2 separate regions of the Homo sapiens genome follow, and region 2 is linked to region 1. The links come from fine-mapping of genetic effects on gene expression. A gene starts in region 1. The other region holds a variant in brackets. All regions are shown on one strand. Distances are from middle to middle.

The links. PIP is the estimated chance that this variant, and not a neighbour inherited with it, causes the effect. A credible set is the group of variants that fine-mapping cannot tell apart.
Region 2: its variant is the best candidate, but not a certain one, in a credible set for the expression of RBM5 in whole blood (INTERVAL, PIP 0.53).

What each region holds. Positions count from the first base shown.
Region 1 is chr3:50,085,353-50,093,686 of GRCh38, reverse strand. It overlaps RBM5 (RNA binding motif protein 5), which reads right to left and starts at 4,768. Exons shown (of 25, transcript NM_005778.4): 1 at 4,658-4,768; 2 at 3,236-3,305; 3 at 1,479-1,644. The coding sequence starts at 3,252. RefSeq lists enhancers at 3,729-4,319, 4,481-4,590, 4,631-4,800, 4,320-4,911.
Region 2 is chr3:49,952,521-49,960,854 of GRCh38, reverse strand. All of the region lies in intron 1 of RBM6 (RNA binding motif protein 6), which reads right to left. Among named protein-coding and RNA genes, the nearest start is that of RBM6, 17 kb to the right of the region's middle. The variant G/A (reference allele first, on the strand shown) is at 3,440.

The DNA of each region.
Region 1 (8,334 bases):
CACCCTGTACTCTTTGAAACAGACCCTCCACTCCTAGAAATTATCCTTAGCAGGAAGTGTACAGAGATTACACAAGCACTCCATGGTAATGTTCACTGCAATTTTTTTTTTTTGAGACAGGGGTCTCACTATGTTACCCAGGCTGGTCTGAACTCCTGGCCTCAAATGACCCTCCTGCTATGGCCTCCCAAAGTGCTGGGATTATAGGCACACCCAGCCTGCTGTGTTTTCTTTTTTTTTTTTTTTGAGACAGTTTCACTCTTATTGCCCAGACTGGAGTGCAGTGGTGCGATGATCTCTGCTCACTGCAACCTCTGCCTCCTGGGTTCAAGCAATTCTCCTCCTTCAGCCTCCCGAGTAGTTGGGACTATAGGCACTTGCCACCACGCCCAGCTAATTTTTTGTATTTTTAGTAGAGACAGGGTTTCACCATGTTAGCCAGGATGGTCTCAATCTTCTGACCTCATGATCCGCCCGCCTCGGCCTCCCAAAGTGCTGGGATTACAGGCGTAAGCCACCGTGCCGGCCTTCTGGTTTTTTTTTTTTTTGAGACAGAGTCTCCCTCTGTCGTCCATGCTGGAGTGCAATGGCATGATCTCAGCTCACTGCAACCACTGCCTCCCAGGCTCAAGCAATTCTCGTACCTCAGCCTCCTGAGTAGCTGAGGTCGCACCACTGCACTCCAGCCTGGGTGACAAGACTAAAAAGCTGTCTCAAAAAAAAAAAAAAAAAAAAAAAAAAAAGATATATCAAGATGACCAAAACAACAACTTATATTTATTATTTTTCATTATTATTATTTTAAAGACAGGGTCTCCCTATGGTGCCCAGGCTGGCCTCTAACTCCTGGGCTCAAGGGATCCTCCTGCCTCGGCCTCCCAAATTGTTGGGATTACAGGTGTGAGCCACTGTGCCTGGCCAACAACTTATATTTATCATTCATTTCAAAACACAGAACTAATATGTTATCATAACCCCATTGTTTCATCTTTAAAATGGGAATAACACCTACCTTATCAGGTTGTACTGAGACCTAAATGAATTCATGAAGTCAAGTGCTCAAAAGTACATGGTGATCCCTATGTAAACCCTGGCCATTATTTCTTTTCTTTTTTTTTTTTTTTTGAGATGGAGTCTTGCTTTGTCACCCATGCTGGAGAGCACTGATACAATCTCAGCTCACTGCAACCTCCGCCTCCCAGGTTTCAAGTGATTCTCTTACCTCAGTCTCCCAAGTAGCTGGGATTACAGGCGCCCACCACCCCACTCAGCTAATTTTTGTATTTTTAGTAGAGACGGGTTTTACTATGTTGGCCAGACTGGTCTTAAACTCCTGACCTCAAGTGATCTGGCCGCCTTGGCCTCCCAAAGTGATAGGATTATGGGAAGGGGCCACTGGACCTGGCTGCCTGGCTGTTATTTCTATTACTATAAGGCTCAGAGTGTTTTGGGGGGTTATACAGCCGCTGGTCACTCACCTCTGGACTGTCATAGTCTCGGTAGTCATCATATCTATCACCCCTCCGATCATCACTAGATCTTTTGTAATCTGAGTCCCTCCGCCTGCTTCGGGATTCACGCTCATCACGGTCATCCCTGTCTATGATGGAACCGTATCTTCCACTACGCTCTGTTCTACTCACTCTGCCAGGGAAAATAATTTTCATTCTAAAGTCAGTCACATTTTGTACCTTTAAAAGACATAGTTAAAAATACACACGGCCCACAGATCAGTTTATAAGATAATCCAAATAGTTTAAAGTGTTAAAAAGTATTACCAAATTCCAGTTTACTAAGATAACCACTGGGAAAATACCTACATCCCTAAATGTAATGATAATTCTCAGGAATGTATGCTAAATCTGAAATAAACATTTGGGTTGAATATTTCTAAGAAAGAGTCATGTTGTCCAAGTTTATTTTTGCATTTTGTCAAGCCTAGAGTCTACATATTATCCCTTCATCCCTGATTCAGATCTTAGTGACCAAAAACAGGAAGAAAGCAGTTACTCGAATTTCACCCAATTTTAAAGGGTGAAATTAAGTACATCCCTGGCTCATCTACTCTCAAGGGTATCATGCCTACTGGAAAATGGACCAAAAACCTGGATGAACTAAGTTAGTCTTTTTTTTCCCCATCAGGCAACTTAGTTGTCTGTCAGATACAACTGGATAGTTACCCAAAACTAGCACCCCTTAAGAGAACACTCTTCTTATAACATCTGGTTTATTTTTGGCTAAAGGGCAGCACTGGGCTTCATGGGAAAACCTAATAACAAGAGGCTTAAACCTATTTGACCACAGATAAAATACACCTTTTGTAAACTGTTTACCAGATTCATAAAACTGCTGTGCAATCATAAGGCAAAGGAAAGGTTTATAAGGGCTTCATTTAGAATATACAAATTTAATAAAAAGAATCAAAGGAAATATGGGACTGAGACACCCCAAAGGGGTAAATGTTAATTTAGTAAGCTATTTAGAACCACAGACTGCTGACACAGCATTAAAATACCATGTGACATGAACATCTCCTAAGGTCCCTCAGCCTGTCAATGTGATCTACCACAGGGACTGACCTCAATACTAAAAAGGCAGATGGCTGAATAAGGGTGTGTGTTTAAATCAAATGGTCTGAGAGCATGTACCCATAGGTGACACAATAGCCAAATGCTCTCATCTTAATTTTCCACTAATTCTTTGGCTCTTTCTTTCTTCATGTAACACACAGTCCCAAGCTTCTCAGCTCTCTAAGTCTGGATCATCTTGCTATTCAGGGAACAATAACAAGAAATGGCATTCATTGATTGCTTACCACAGCCAGGAACTGTGCTAAGTGCCAGACTGTATGATCTCCTGGATTCTGCAAAGGTTGCTGTCCACACAGGGAACCTTCAGTGACCCACTCTACCCTGCCCTTCTTTGCCTAAAATTCTTTCTTATCCTTCAGCTTCCTTCCAGAGAATATTTTCTCCAGGAAGCTTTCCTGGCTGTGAACAAGAAAAAGACATACTTCCTATGTGTTCTAAGAGCACCCTACACTTTATCACAGCATGTTCACACAGTACTTTAATTCTCTCACTAGACTGTAGTTTGTGACAACAGGATCATAAAGGTGTTCGTTAGCAATGCCTGGCGCAAAACACTCATATATTAGTTTGATAAACTATTTTAAACAAGGAGTTCAGTCCCCACTGAAATGTTGAGATCAAAGCCACGTACTGTAGTAACTTACCTTTTGTCTGAACCCATTGTCCCACTGAAGATTTAGCACACAGCTCCAAAAGGTTCAAATTTTATTTTTTCTAGGAGACAAGAGAGATTAATTGCTATAAATCTCAGAGATCACTTAAGTCAGCAGCTCCATAGCTTGGATACTACTGAGGCTGGGATTTCATCAAACCTTCAAATCATTGACAGTGATTATCTAAGGTGGGGAAGTGGTGGGGACAAACTGTCAACGTTAAAATCGTGCTAACATTTTGTTAACAATGAGCAAAACCGGAAGATTAAGCATATTTTAAAATATTAGATTCCAGATTTAACAGAATCATAATACGGAGCAAGCAGAAGACTCCTTCCCTGCTCCTACCTTAGAATTACAAAGCAAAAAGGGCAGAGCTACAATCAGCTCCTTGGTTTTGTATCAAAGCAACTCCGTGGGATAGTTGACCGTTAAAACATTAATCCAAGTGTCTTCATTAATACAAGGAGCAACATGAAATTCAAACACTTCTGATGAAAAATGTAAAACCTCGTAGAAGCTGGGATACTGAGCTGACTGAAATCTACTACATTAATAACGTATCGCATAAGACAAGAGCAAAGCTAGAAACGACCTAATTCCTAGGTAACAATAACCACCACGTCTTGAGCCAGTTCTTATGACTACAAACCACTGAGTAGTGAACAGCCCGGCCCCCCGCCCCCCGTTGGTAATAAGACATCACACTGCTGGACCGCGTTCGATGAGCGCGAGGTCCGAAAAATCAGTTCCAGTAGTCTCTGGAAGCCTAGTCTAGAGCGAATGCTCAACGATTTGTTGAAATTAATAAATGAAAAAGAACCACTGGGGGGAAACAAGTCCCGGGGCATATTCACTGGTGCCGCCCCTTGTCTCCCGGGCGGTGCCGGCACCCACCTCCGTGGGGTCTCGCGGCCGAGATGGCGGCGTCACGGCCTGCTCGACCGACTCCAGCGTCCGGCCTGCCCTCCCCGCACATGCCCCTCCCGCCTCCCAAGAGGTTCCAAACCCGCAGATGGGCGATCACCGAACAGCTTTTCGGAGAGGGCGATTCAGTTGCAGTTGAGCGGGGGATGGCGGCCAGAGACTGCCAGGGAGCTCCCAAGGAGTGCCCGAGGGACAGGCGACGGCTCCACTGCTCCGTTGGGCTGAAGATTAGGGGACGTGTATCCACAAGGGGCAAAGTCACAGCCAGAAAGAAGCAGGCCCAAGGCTGAGCTGGCTGGACACCCTCTGGAAACTGACAGAGCTGGCAACAAGGAAGGGCGCGGCCCTCCAACGCCTGGGGTAATTTAGCCCCTCTACAGAACCGGCTGGAGCTGATCAGTCGCCTCCGGCAGCTGACAAGGGAGGCTTGGGGGCCAGCCCAAATGGCAAGAACCTACCGTCGTTACAGACAGCCGCCGCACTTACCCCAAGGAGAGACCGAAGCAGCAGTAGCGGTTCTGCGCCCCAGAACCTCCAACAAGGTTCGGCGGCTACACAAAATGGCGCCTCCGCCGACGGCCGTCTCCTACCCACAGTACCTCACGCTTATCCCCTCCCCCTGTCACCCGCCTCCTGCGGAGAAGTCCAATCCTCGAAGCGGCCTGGCTGTGCGAGGGCTGCCGGGAAATGTGGTCGCCAGACCATCCTGTCACTTAGGACGCTCTGTGTTAATGTCTTGCAATTCTCTTCTAAATCACTACAGAGTTGTCGATCGGCTTTTGCAGACCTGGATTAGTTTTTAGGGCTCCTATTAGGCATGTTAATAATTCTTTGCTTTTGCTACTAGCGCCGTAGAGAGTACAGTTTGCTTTCACTGGCACGGTGTAAAACATTGTCTAATTCTACTTCAAAAGGAGACCGTGCGTGAAGTGGTGGCTCACTCACAAGCCAGCATTTTGGGAGGCCGAGGCAGGAGGATCGCTTGAGGCCAGGAGTTCGAGACCAGCCTGGGAAACACAGTGAGATCCTATCTCTACAAAAAATAAAATTAACTGAGCATGGTGGCGTGCACCTCTTGTCCCAGCTACTCAGGAGCTGAGGTGAGAGGTTCGCTTGGGCCCAAGAGGTCGAGGCTGCAGTGAGCTGTGATCTCGTCACAGCACTCCAGCCTGGGGACAATGCGAGAAACTGTCGCTAAAAAATAAAAAGGAGGCCGGTGCTGGGCGCGGTGGCTCACTCCTGTAATCCCAGCACTTTGGGAGGCCAAGGCGGGCGGATCACAAGGTCAGGAGATCGAGACCATCCTGGCTAACACGGTGAAATCCCGTCTCTACTAAAAATACAAAAAAATTAGCTGGGCATGGTGGCGGGCGCCTGTAGTCCCAGCTACTTGGGCGGCTGAGGCAGGAGAATGGTGTGAACCCGGGAGGCGGAGCTTGCAGTGAGCCGAGATTGCGCCACTGCACTCCAGCCTGGGCAACAGAGTGAGACTCTGTTTCAAAAAAAAAAAAAAAAAAGGCTGGACGCAGTGGCTCACGCCTGTAATCCCAGCACTTTGGGAGGCCGAGGCAAGTGGATCACGAGGTCAGGAGCTCAAGACCAGCCTGACCAATATGGTGAAACCGCGTCTCTACTAAAAATACAAAAATTAGCCGGGCATGGTGGCATGCACCTGTAGTTCCAGCTACTAGGGAGGCTGAGGCAGGAGAATCACTTGAACCAGGGAGGCAGAGGTTGCAGTGAGCTGAGATCGTGCCACTGCACTCCAGCCTGGGTGACAGAGCAAGACTCAGTCTCAAAATAATAATAATAATAATAATAATAATAATAATAATAATAATAATAAATAAATAAATAAAAAGGAGGGGCCAGGCATGATGGCTCATGCCTGTAATCCAAGCACTGTGGGAGGCCGAGGCAGGTGGATCAGCTGAGCTCAGGAGTTCGAGACCAGCCTGGCCAACATGGCTAAACCCCGTCTCTACTAAAAATACAAAAATTAGCTGGGTGTGGTGGCGCACACCTATAATCCCAGCTACTTGGGAGGCTGAGGTAGGAGAATCGCTTGAACCCAAGAGGCGGAGGTTGCAGTGAGCCGAGATTGCTCTACCGCACTCCAGCTTGTGCAACACAGCAAGACTCTATCTCAAAAAAAAATAAAAATAAAAAATAAATTAAAATGAGGAACATTAGTTGATCGCTTTACTAGATGCTATATTATTGCCCTAGATGCTTTGCAAACATTTTTGTTTGTTTGTTTGTTTGAGATGGAGTTTTGCTCCTGTTGCCCAGGCTGGAGTGCAATGGCACAGTTTCAACTCACTGCAAACTCTGCCTCCCAGGTTCAAGTGATTCTCCTGCCTCAGCCTCCCAAACAGCTGGGATTACAGGCACCCGCCACCACACCCAGCTAATTTTTGTATTTTTAGTAGAGATGGGGTTTCACCATGTTGACCAGGCTGGTTTCGAACTCCTGACCTCAGGTGATCCACCTGCCTCAGCCTCCCAAAGTGCTAGGATTACAGGCATGAGCCACCGCACCCAGCCAGAACTGATTTTTCAGGTCATACAAATTGAAAACTGTGCCTATACCATTAGTTACAGAAAGTTATACATCAGTTACAGAAAACTGTGCCTATACCATTTTCTTCTCTCTCTGGAAAACAAATCTTTCAAGAATAAGTGGAGGGATGTCAGTGTATATATCTATATATAGGTATATACACAATACATATATAGACGAAAAGGTAGAAATATAATATATGTGGTGTGTGTGTATTTAGAGAGGAAATATATACAATTTATGGGGAAGCATATATGCAAAATATCAGAAAAGAGTACATGCATTAATGAAATTTAAAAGTTAACATTGATGACATCACTGCAAACCCTACAATGGATGATGCAGATGCCAAGAATCTAGAACTCACTAGACTTCATAGCCACTAGCCGTTGCCTGCCTTGTCCCCAAAGCAGTTCAACAAGCACCTTTGGATATTCCTGAGGTGCTTGCTGAGCTGGGCTTACCACCAGTCATAAAAGCTATATAGCTATTCACAAACCTCAAAATAATCTTTTTTTTTTTTGAGACGGGGTCTTACTCTGTCACCCAGGTTGGAGTGCAATGTCATGATCTCGGTTCATTGCAACCTCGACCTATCCAGGTCAAGAGATCCTCCCACCTCAGCCTCCTGAGTAGCTGAGACCACAGGTGTGCACCACCATGCCCAACTAATTTTTTGTATTTTTGGGGTAGAGATGGAGTTTCACCATGTTGCCCTGGCTGGTCTCGAACTCCTGAGTTCAAGCGATCCTCCTGCCTCAACCTCCCAAAGTGCTGGGATTACAAGCGTGAGCCACCATGCCCAGCCTGCAAAATAATTCTTAAACTTGAAGAGGTCCCTGGCAAAAAAAGATGGATTTCATCCATAGGTAAGTGCCATCCTCCAAATTATCTCTGGTAGCTGATCTTCTTTTAGACATTGGCCTGTTGAGCTCCAGAGCTCTGCTGCCAAAGGCCTGTCTGGTAGCTGATGTAAGAAAAAGAAAGACATCAGAGTGAGTTGCTCTTTGTTTTAAATAAAGCCACATATGTTCAATAAGGGATAGTCCTTTAAGATTGTCTTTTCTAGCCCTCTCCCTCTCCCTCTCCCCACGGTCTCCCTCTCTCTCTCTTTCCACGGTCTCCCTCTGATGCCGAGCCGAAGCTGGACAGTACTGCTGCCATCTCGGCTCACTGCAACCTCCCTGCCTGATTCTCCTGCCTCAGCTTGCCGAGTGCCTGCGATTGCAGGTGCGCACCGCCACGCCTGACTGGTTTTCGTATTTTTTTGGTGGAGACGGGGATTCGCTGTGTTGGCCGGGCTGGTCTCCAGCTCCTAACCGTGAGTGATCCGCCAGCCTCGGCCTCCCGAGGTGCCGGGATTGCAGACGGAGTCTCGTTCACTCAGTGCTCAATGGTGCCCAGGCTGGAGTGCAGTGGCATGATCTCGGCTCGCTACAACCTCCACCTCCCAGCAGCCTGCCTTGGCCTCCCAAAGTGCCGAGATTGCAGCCTCTGCCCGGCCGCCACCCCGTCTGGGAAGTGAGGAGCGTCTCCGCCTGGCCGCCCATCGTCTGGGATGTGAGGAGCCCCTCTGCCTGGCTGCCCAGTCTGGAAAGTG
Region 2 (8,334 bases), 130 kb after region 1:
ATGAAGTAAGTATTTACTGATTTTTCTAGCGCTCACTAGCCCTTCCTTTTTGGAAACAGCACTGTAGTATCAACCCCACTGTCTCAGACCTGATCGGACACCATCCAGCATGAGCAATCGGAATAATCTATTACCCTCACCACAGTCATTGCTTTGAAGACAGACATGTAACTCAAGTCAAGATAAGAAGTTATTTCCAGGACCTTTGTTATAGCTACTGAAAAAGAGGCAAATCTTCATGACCTTGGATTTGGCAATGATTTCTTAAATATGACCCCTACAGCACAAGGAACTTTAAAAGAAAAAGTAGATAAAGGGACTTCACCAAAATTAAAAACTTCTGTGTATCAAAGGACACTATCAAGAGAGTACAAAGACAGCCCATAGGTCATCAAAATGGCAGACTAGGAAGTTTCAAGGTCTCATTCCTTCATAGAAACATCAGAAAAACAAGTAGTAACTGTCTGAACCAAATTTGACAGTTTTAGAAAAGAGTCAAAGGTTTACAAGCAAATATCCAATGAAGAAAAAGCCATCTTCAAAACAGAAGGAAAGTTCTGTGGTGTTTTACTCAACCTTGCCCTACCCCCTCTCCAGCATGGCAGTGTTTTTTGTCTTAAAGCAGTAGAAGCCCAATTCCCAGCTCCCTCCCTCAAAGAGCAAAGCAGACCTTATTTGCAAATTATCGTACATATCTGTTCTACCCTGTCTGCGGGGGTATTTGAAGGACAGACATAAGGTGCATGTTTCTATTTCAACCTAATACAAAACTCAGGCAGAGAAAGCAGCAGGTATTGCTAATGAAAGCTGCAAAGCAGACTACAGACTAACAGGCACTTGGGGCAAGAGATTACAGATAGATGCCCACAGAAGTTGAGGTGAAACTCTTTGGCAAATTAGGACATTCCAAAGCAACATGTATATGGTGAAATTTAGAAAGCCATATGAATGCCAAGGCAAAATGTATGATCATACAAGACCTAGGCCGGGCGTGGGGGCTCATGTCTGTAATCCCTGCACTTTGGGAGGCTGAGGCGTGTGGATCACTTGAGGTCAGGAGTTCGAGACCAGCCTGGCCAACATGGTGACACCCCGTCTCTACTAAAAATACAAAAAATTAGCCAGGCGTAGTGGCGGGCACCTGTAGTCCCAGCTACTTGGGAGGCTGAGGCAGGAGAATGACTTGAACCCTGGAGGCGGAGGTTGCAGTGAGCCGAGGTCACACCACTGCACTCCAGCCTGGGCAACAGAGCAAGACTCTGTCTCAAAAAAAAAAAAAAAAACCCTAAATATAAATTGCCAACCAAGAATTCTGTAAATGGCAACACTGTCTTTCAAAAAATAGGGAAAAACATTGGCCGGGCGAGGCGGCTCACACCTGTAATCCCAGCACTTTGGGAGGCCGAGGCGGGCGGATCACAAGGTCAGGAGATTGAGACCATCCTGGCTAACACAGTGAAACCCCGTCTCTACTAAAAATACAAAAAAAAAAAAAAAAATTAGCCAGGCGTGGTGGCGGGCACCTGTAGTCCCAGCTACTCACGAGGCTGAGGCAGGAGAATGGTGTGAACCCAGGAGGCGGAGCTTGCAGTGAGCTGAGATCACGCCACTGCACTCCAGCCTGGGCGACAGAGCGAGACTCCATCTCAAAAAAAAAAAAAAAAAAGGAAAAAAATCAAGACATTCTCAGATAAACAAAAGCTGAGGGAGGCTCATTACCACTATACAGACCTTGTAAGAAATGCTAAAAGGGAATTCTTCAGTCCGGGCACAGTGGCTCACGCCTGTAATCCCAGCACTTTGGGAGGCCGAAGTGGGTTGGTCACGAGGTCAGGAGTTCGACACCAGCCTGGCCAAGATGGTGAAACCCGTCTCTACTAAAAATACAAAAATTAGCCAGGTGCAGTAGCAGGCACCCCTAATCCCAGCTAGTCAGGAGGCTGAGGCAGGAGTATCGCTTCAACTTGGAGTGGGGGTTGGTTGCAGTGAGCTGAGATCATGCCATGGCACTCAGCACTCCAGCCAGGGCAACAGAGTGAGACTCCATTTTTACAAAAAAAAAAAAAAAAAAAGGAATTCTTCAGAATGAATTTTTTTTTTTTTTGAAATGGAGTCTCGCTCTGTTGCCAAGGCTGGAATGCAGTTGAGCGATCTCGGCTCACTGCAAGCTCCACCTCCTGGGTTCATGCCATTCTCCTGCCTCAGCTTCCCGAGTAACTGGGACTACAGGCGCCCGCCACCACGCCCGGCTAATTTTTGTGGTTTTTTGTTTTTTGTTTTTGAGACAGAGTCTTGCTGTCTCCCAGGCTGGAGTGCAGTGGCGTGATCTTGGCTCACTGCAAGCTCCGCCTCCTGGGTTGACGCCATTCTCCTGCCTCAGCCTCCCGAGTAGCTGGGACTACAGGTGCCCACCGCAATGCCAGCTAATAGTTTTTTTTGTTTTGTTTTGTTTTTTGTATTTTTAGTGGAGACGGGGTTTCACCATGTTAGCCAGGATGGTCTCGATCTCCTGACCTCGTGATCCACCCACCTCAGCCTCCCAAAGTGCTGGGATTACAGGCGTGAGCCACCGCACCCGGCCTTTTGTGTTTTTAGTAGAGACGGGGTTTCACTGTGTTAACCAGGATGGTCTCGATCTCCTGACCTCGTGATCCGCCCGCCTTAGCCTCCCAAAGTGTCGGGATTACAGGCGTGAGCCACTGCGCCCGGCCCAGAATGAATTTTTAAAAGCTAGACGTGAAGCCATGTGAAGAAATAAAGATCTCGGCCAGGTGCGGTGGCTCACACCTGAGGTCAGGAGTTCAAGACCAGCCTGGCCAACATGGCAAAACCCCATCTCTACTAAAAATACAAAAATCAGCCACGTGTGGTGGCGTACAACTACAGTCCCAGCTACTCAGGAGCCTGAGGCAAGAAAATCTTTTGAACCCGGGAGGCAGAGGTTACAGTCAGCTGAGATTGCGCCATTGCACTCCAGCCTGGGCGAAAGAGCGAGACTCCATCCCAAAAAAAAAAAAAAGAAAGAAAGATCTCTGGTAAAGGCAAATACAGGGGCAACTGTAAAAACTAGCATTATTGCAATTTTGCTTTGTAACTCCTACTTTTCACTTTCAATGTGATCTAAAAGACAGATGCATAAAAAATTATTAATCTAGGTTCCTGAGATACGATTTACAAAGATGTAATCCATGACTTAACAGAAAAGGGAAGAGAAAGGAGCTGGATAGGAGCAGAGATTTGTATACTATGGAACTTAAGTTAGTATAAATTCAAATTAGATTATAACTGTGAGATGTTAAGTGTAATTCCCATGGTAACTGCAAAGAACATATCTTTAGAATATACACATAAGAAAATAAGGTTGCCTGCTTATGCACTAGAAAGAAAAAGAAAATGAGAAGGGGCTAGGCACAGTGGCTCATGCTTGTTGTCCTAGCAC[G/A]ACAAGCACTGGGAGGCTGAGGCAGGAGGATTCCTTGGGCTCAGGGGTTTGAAACCACCATTGGCCATATAGTGAGACTCTCTCTACTTCAAAAAAAAAAAAAAAGAAAGAAAGAAAATGAGAAGAAAGTCAAAACATTTTCACAACAGGCCAGTGGCTAACATCTGTAATCCCAGCACTTCAGGAAGCCGATTGCTTGAGGCCAGGAGTTTGAGACCAGCCTAGGCAATATAGCAAGACCCCATCTCTATGAAAAATTTAAAAAACAAAAAAGGCAGGTGGCACATGTCTGCACTTCCAGTTACTTGCAAAGAATGAAGCGGGAGGATTGCTTGAGTCCAGGAATCCAAGTCTGCAGTGAGCTATGATCTCATCACTGTTCTCCAATCTGGACAACACAGCAAGACCCTCCCTCTTAAAAAGAAAAAATAAATAAAAAATTAAAAAAGCAGGCCAGGCCTGGTGGCTTACGCCTGTAATCCCAGCACTTTGGGAGGCCGAGGCGGGAGGATCACCTGAGGTCTGGAGTTCGAGACCAGCCTGACCAACATGGAGAAACCCCGTCTCTACTAAAAATACAAAATTAGCTGGGCATGGTGGCGCATGCCTGTAAATTCAGCTACTCAGGAGGCTGAGGCAGGAGAATCACTTGAACCCAGGAGGCGGAGGCTGCGGTGAGCTGAGATTATGCCATTGCACTCCAGCCTGGGCAACAAGAACGAAACTCCGTCTCAAAAAATAAATAAATAAATAATAAAAAATAAAAATAAAAAAATAAAGCGTGGGCCAGGCGTGATGGCTTACGCCTATAATCCCAGCACTTTGGGAAGCCAAGGCAGGAGGATCACCTGAGGTCAGGAGTTCGAGACCAGCCTGACCAACATAGAGAAACCCCATCTCTATTAAAAATACAAAATTAGCCAGGCATGGTGGCAAGCCTGTAATCCCAGCTACTTGGGAGGCAGAGGCAGGAAAATGCCTGAACCCGGGAGGCGGAGGTTGCAGTGAGCTGAAATCATGCCACTGCACTCCAGCCTGGGCAACAAGAGTGAAACTCCGTCTCAAAAAAAAAAAAAAAAAAAAAAAAGCGGGGGAGGGGGCAGAAAGTGGCTAATGCCTGTAATCCCAACACTTTGGAAGGCTAAGGCAGGTAGATTGTTTGAACCCAGTTTGAGACCAGCCTGGGCAACATGGCAAAACCCTATCTCTACAAAAAATACAAAAATTAGCCAGGCATGGTGGTGGCACACCTATACTACCAGCTACTCAGGAGACTGGGACAGGAGGATCACTTGAGCCCAAAGTTGCAGTGAGCTGAGATTGTGGCACTGCACTATTTTGCTCACCAAAGCCTAGGCAACAGTCTCATGCTCTCAAAAAAAAAAAATTTTTTTTCACTACCAAAAAAAAAAAAATCAGCTAAACATAAAAGTAGTAGCAAAATGGCAAAAGTCCTTATCAGTAATTACTTTAAATGTAAATACTTTAAACTCTCTAATCACAAAATATTGGCAGAATATATATACATATACACACACACACACACACACACACAGAGAGAGAGAGAGAGACACAGAGAGAGAGAGAGACAGAGTTTTGCTTGACACCCAGGCTGGAGTGCAATGGCTCACTGCAACCACCGCCTCTCAAGTTCAAGAGATTCTCCTGTCTCAGCCTCCCAAGAAGCTGAGATTACAGGTGCCCGCCAGTACACCCAGCTAATTTTTGTATTTTTAGTACAGACGAGGTTTCACCATGTTGGCCAGGCTGGTCTCAAACTCCAAACCTCAGGTGATCCACCCGCCTCAGCCTCCCAAAGGGCTGGGATTACAGGCGTGAGCCACTGCGCCCAGCCTAGGATACATTTTTTAAAAACTGTAATCCCAGCTACTCGGGAGTCTAAGGCAGGAGAATCACTTGAACCTGGGAGGCGAAGGTTGCAGTGAGCCAAGATCATGCCACTGCACTCCAGCCTGGGCAACAAGAGCAAAACTTTGTTTCAAAAAATATATATATAAATATTATAAAGCCTAAATGCACATCAATAGAGACCCTATCTCTACAAAAAAATACGAAAATTAACTGGGTGTGGTAGCAGGTGTCTGTAGTCCCAAATACTGCAGAGGTTGAGGTAGGAGGATCCCGAGGCTTGATCCCAGGAGGCAGAGGTTGCTTAAGCCAAGATCACACCACTGCACTCCAGCCTGGGCAACAGAGCGAGACTCAGTCTCAAAAAAAAAAAAAAAAAAAAAAAAGAAAGAAAAAAAAATACTATGCGGCCCTAAGAATAAATAAAGTAGCTATGTTAATTGATACAGGATAAGCTATTATGTATTAAGTTTTAAAAACATGTGCAAGGCCGGGTGCGGTGGCTCACGCCTGTAATCCCAGCACTTTGGGAGGCCTAGGCAGGCGGATCACGAGGTCAGGAGATCGAGGCCATCCTGGCTAACACAGTGAAACCCTGTCTCTACTTAAAATACAAAAAAATTAGCTGGGCATGGCAGTGTGCGCCTGCAGTCCCAGCTGCTGGGGAGGCTGAGGCAGGAGAATGGTGTGAACCTGGGAGGCGGAGCTTGCAGTGGGCTGAGATCGCGCCACTGCACTCCAGCCTGGGTGACAGAGTAAGACTCCATTTCAAAAAAAAAAAAAAGTGTGCAAAATATTTGTAACCTGATATCTGTGCAAAACAGAAAAGAATATATACAACAAAGTTAGAGGACTGACACTTCCCAATTCCAAAACTCACCACAAAGCTACAGTAATCAAGACAGTGTGGCACTGACATAGTATAGACATACAGACCAAGGAAACAGAATTAAGAGTCTATAAATAGGCCAGACACAGTGGCTCACACCTGTAATTCCAATACTTTGGGAGGCTGAGGCAGAAGGATGGCTTGAGCCCAGAAGTTTCAGACCATCCTGGGCAAATATTGAGACCTTGTCTTCACAAATTTTTTTTTTTTTTTTTTTTGAGATGGAGTCTCGCTCTGTCGCCCAGGCTGGAGTGCAATGGTGCAATCTCGGCTCACTGCAACCTCCGCCTCCAGGGTTCAAGCAATTCTTCTGCCTCAGCCTGCCAAGTAGCTGGGACTACAGGCACGTGCCACCACGCCCAGCTAATTTTTGTATTTTTTTAGTGGAGACGGGGTTTCACCATGTTGGCCAGGGTGGTCTCGATCTCCTGACCTTGTGATCCGCCCGCCTGGTCCTCCCAAAGTGCTGGGATTACAGGCGTGAGCCATTGCGCCCGGCCTATAAATTTTTTTTTTTTTTCTGAGACCTTATCTCACTCTGTCACCCAAGCGGGAGTGCAGTGGCACATTCTCGGCTCACTGTAACCACTGCTTCCCTGGCTCCAGCCATCCTCCCACCTCAGCCTCCTGAGTAGCTGGGACTACAAATGTGCACTACCATGCTCGGCTAATTTTTTTGTGTATTTCTGGTAGACCTAGGGTTTCGTTATGTTGCCCGGGCTGGTCTCAAACTCCTGATTCAGGCGATTACCCCGCCTCCACCTCTCAAAGTACTGGGATTACAGGTGTGAGCCACCCTGCCCAGCCTACAAAATTTTTTTTTTAATTAGTCAGGTCCAGCTAGGCGTGGTGGCTCACGCTTGTAACCCCAGCACTTTGGGAGGCTGATGCGGGCAGATCATCTGAGGTCAGGAATTCAAGACCAGGTAGGCCAACATGGTGAAACCCCGTCTCTACTAAAAATACAAAAATTAGCCAGGCGTGGTAGCACATGCCTGCAATCCCAGCTACTCAGGAGGCTGTGGCAGAAGGATCACTTGAACCCAGAAGGCAGAGGTTGCAGTGAGCGGAGATTGTGTCATGTTACTGCACTCCAGCCTGGGTGACAGAGACGGTCTCAAAAAAAAAAAAAAAGGCCAGGTTCGGTGGCTCACACTCACACCTGTAATCCCAGCACTTTGGGAGGCCAAGGCGGGCAGATCACGAGGTCAAGAGATCGAGACCAGCCTGGCCAATGTGGTGAAATCCCGTCTCTACTCAGAATACAAAAATTAGCTGGGCGTGGTGGCACACGCCTGTAGTCCCAGCTACTCAGGAGGCTGAGGGAGGAGAATCACTTGAATCCGGGAGGTGGAATTTGCAGTGAGCCAAGATCGCTCCACTGCACTCCAACCTGGGCGACAGGGCAAGACTCCATCTCAAAAAAAAAAAAAAATTAGCAAGGTGTGATGGCACGCCCCTAAGGTCCCAGTTACCTAGGAGGCTAAAGTGGGAGGATCACTTGAGCATGGGAGTTTCAGCCTGCAGTAAGCCATGATTGCACCACTGCACTCCAGCCTGGGCAACAGAGCAAGACCCTGCCTCAAAAAAAAAGAAAAGAAGAAAAGGTAAGCTGCGCACATTGGCTCATGCCTATAATCGCAGCACTTTTTGAGGCCAAGGTCAGAGGATCACTTAAGACCAGGAGTTCAAGACCAACCTGGGCAACACAGCAAAACCCCCATCTCTACAATTTTTTGGTTTAAATGAAAAGACATCCCACAGAATGGGAGAAAATTTGTGCAAATTACATATTTGGTAAGTGACTTGTATCTAAAATATATAAAAAATGATTTCAACTCAGTAACAAAAAGAAAAATAAGCCAGGAGCAGTGGCACACGCCTGTAATCCCAACACTTTGGGAGGCCAAGGCAGGTGGATCACCTGAGGTCGGGAGTTTGAGACCAGCCTGACCAACATGGAGAAACCCTGTCTCTACTAAAAATACAAAATTAGCTGGCGTGGTGATGCATGCCTGTAATCCCAGCTACTCGGGAGGCTGAGGCAGGAGAATCACTTGAACCCGGGAGACAGAGGTTGCGTTGAGTCGAGATGCACCATTGCACACCAGCCTGGGCAACAAGAGCAAAACTTCGT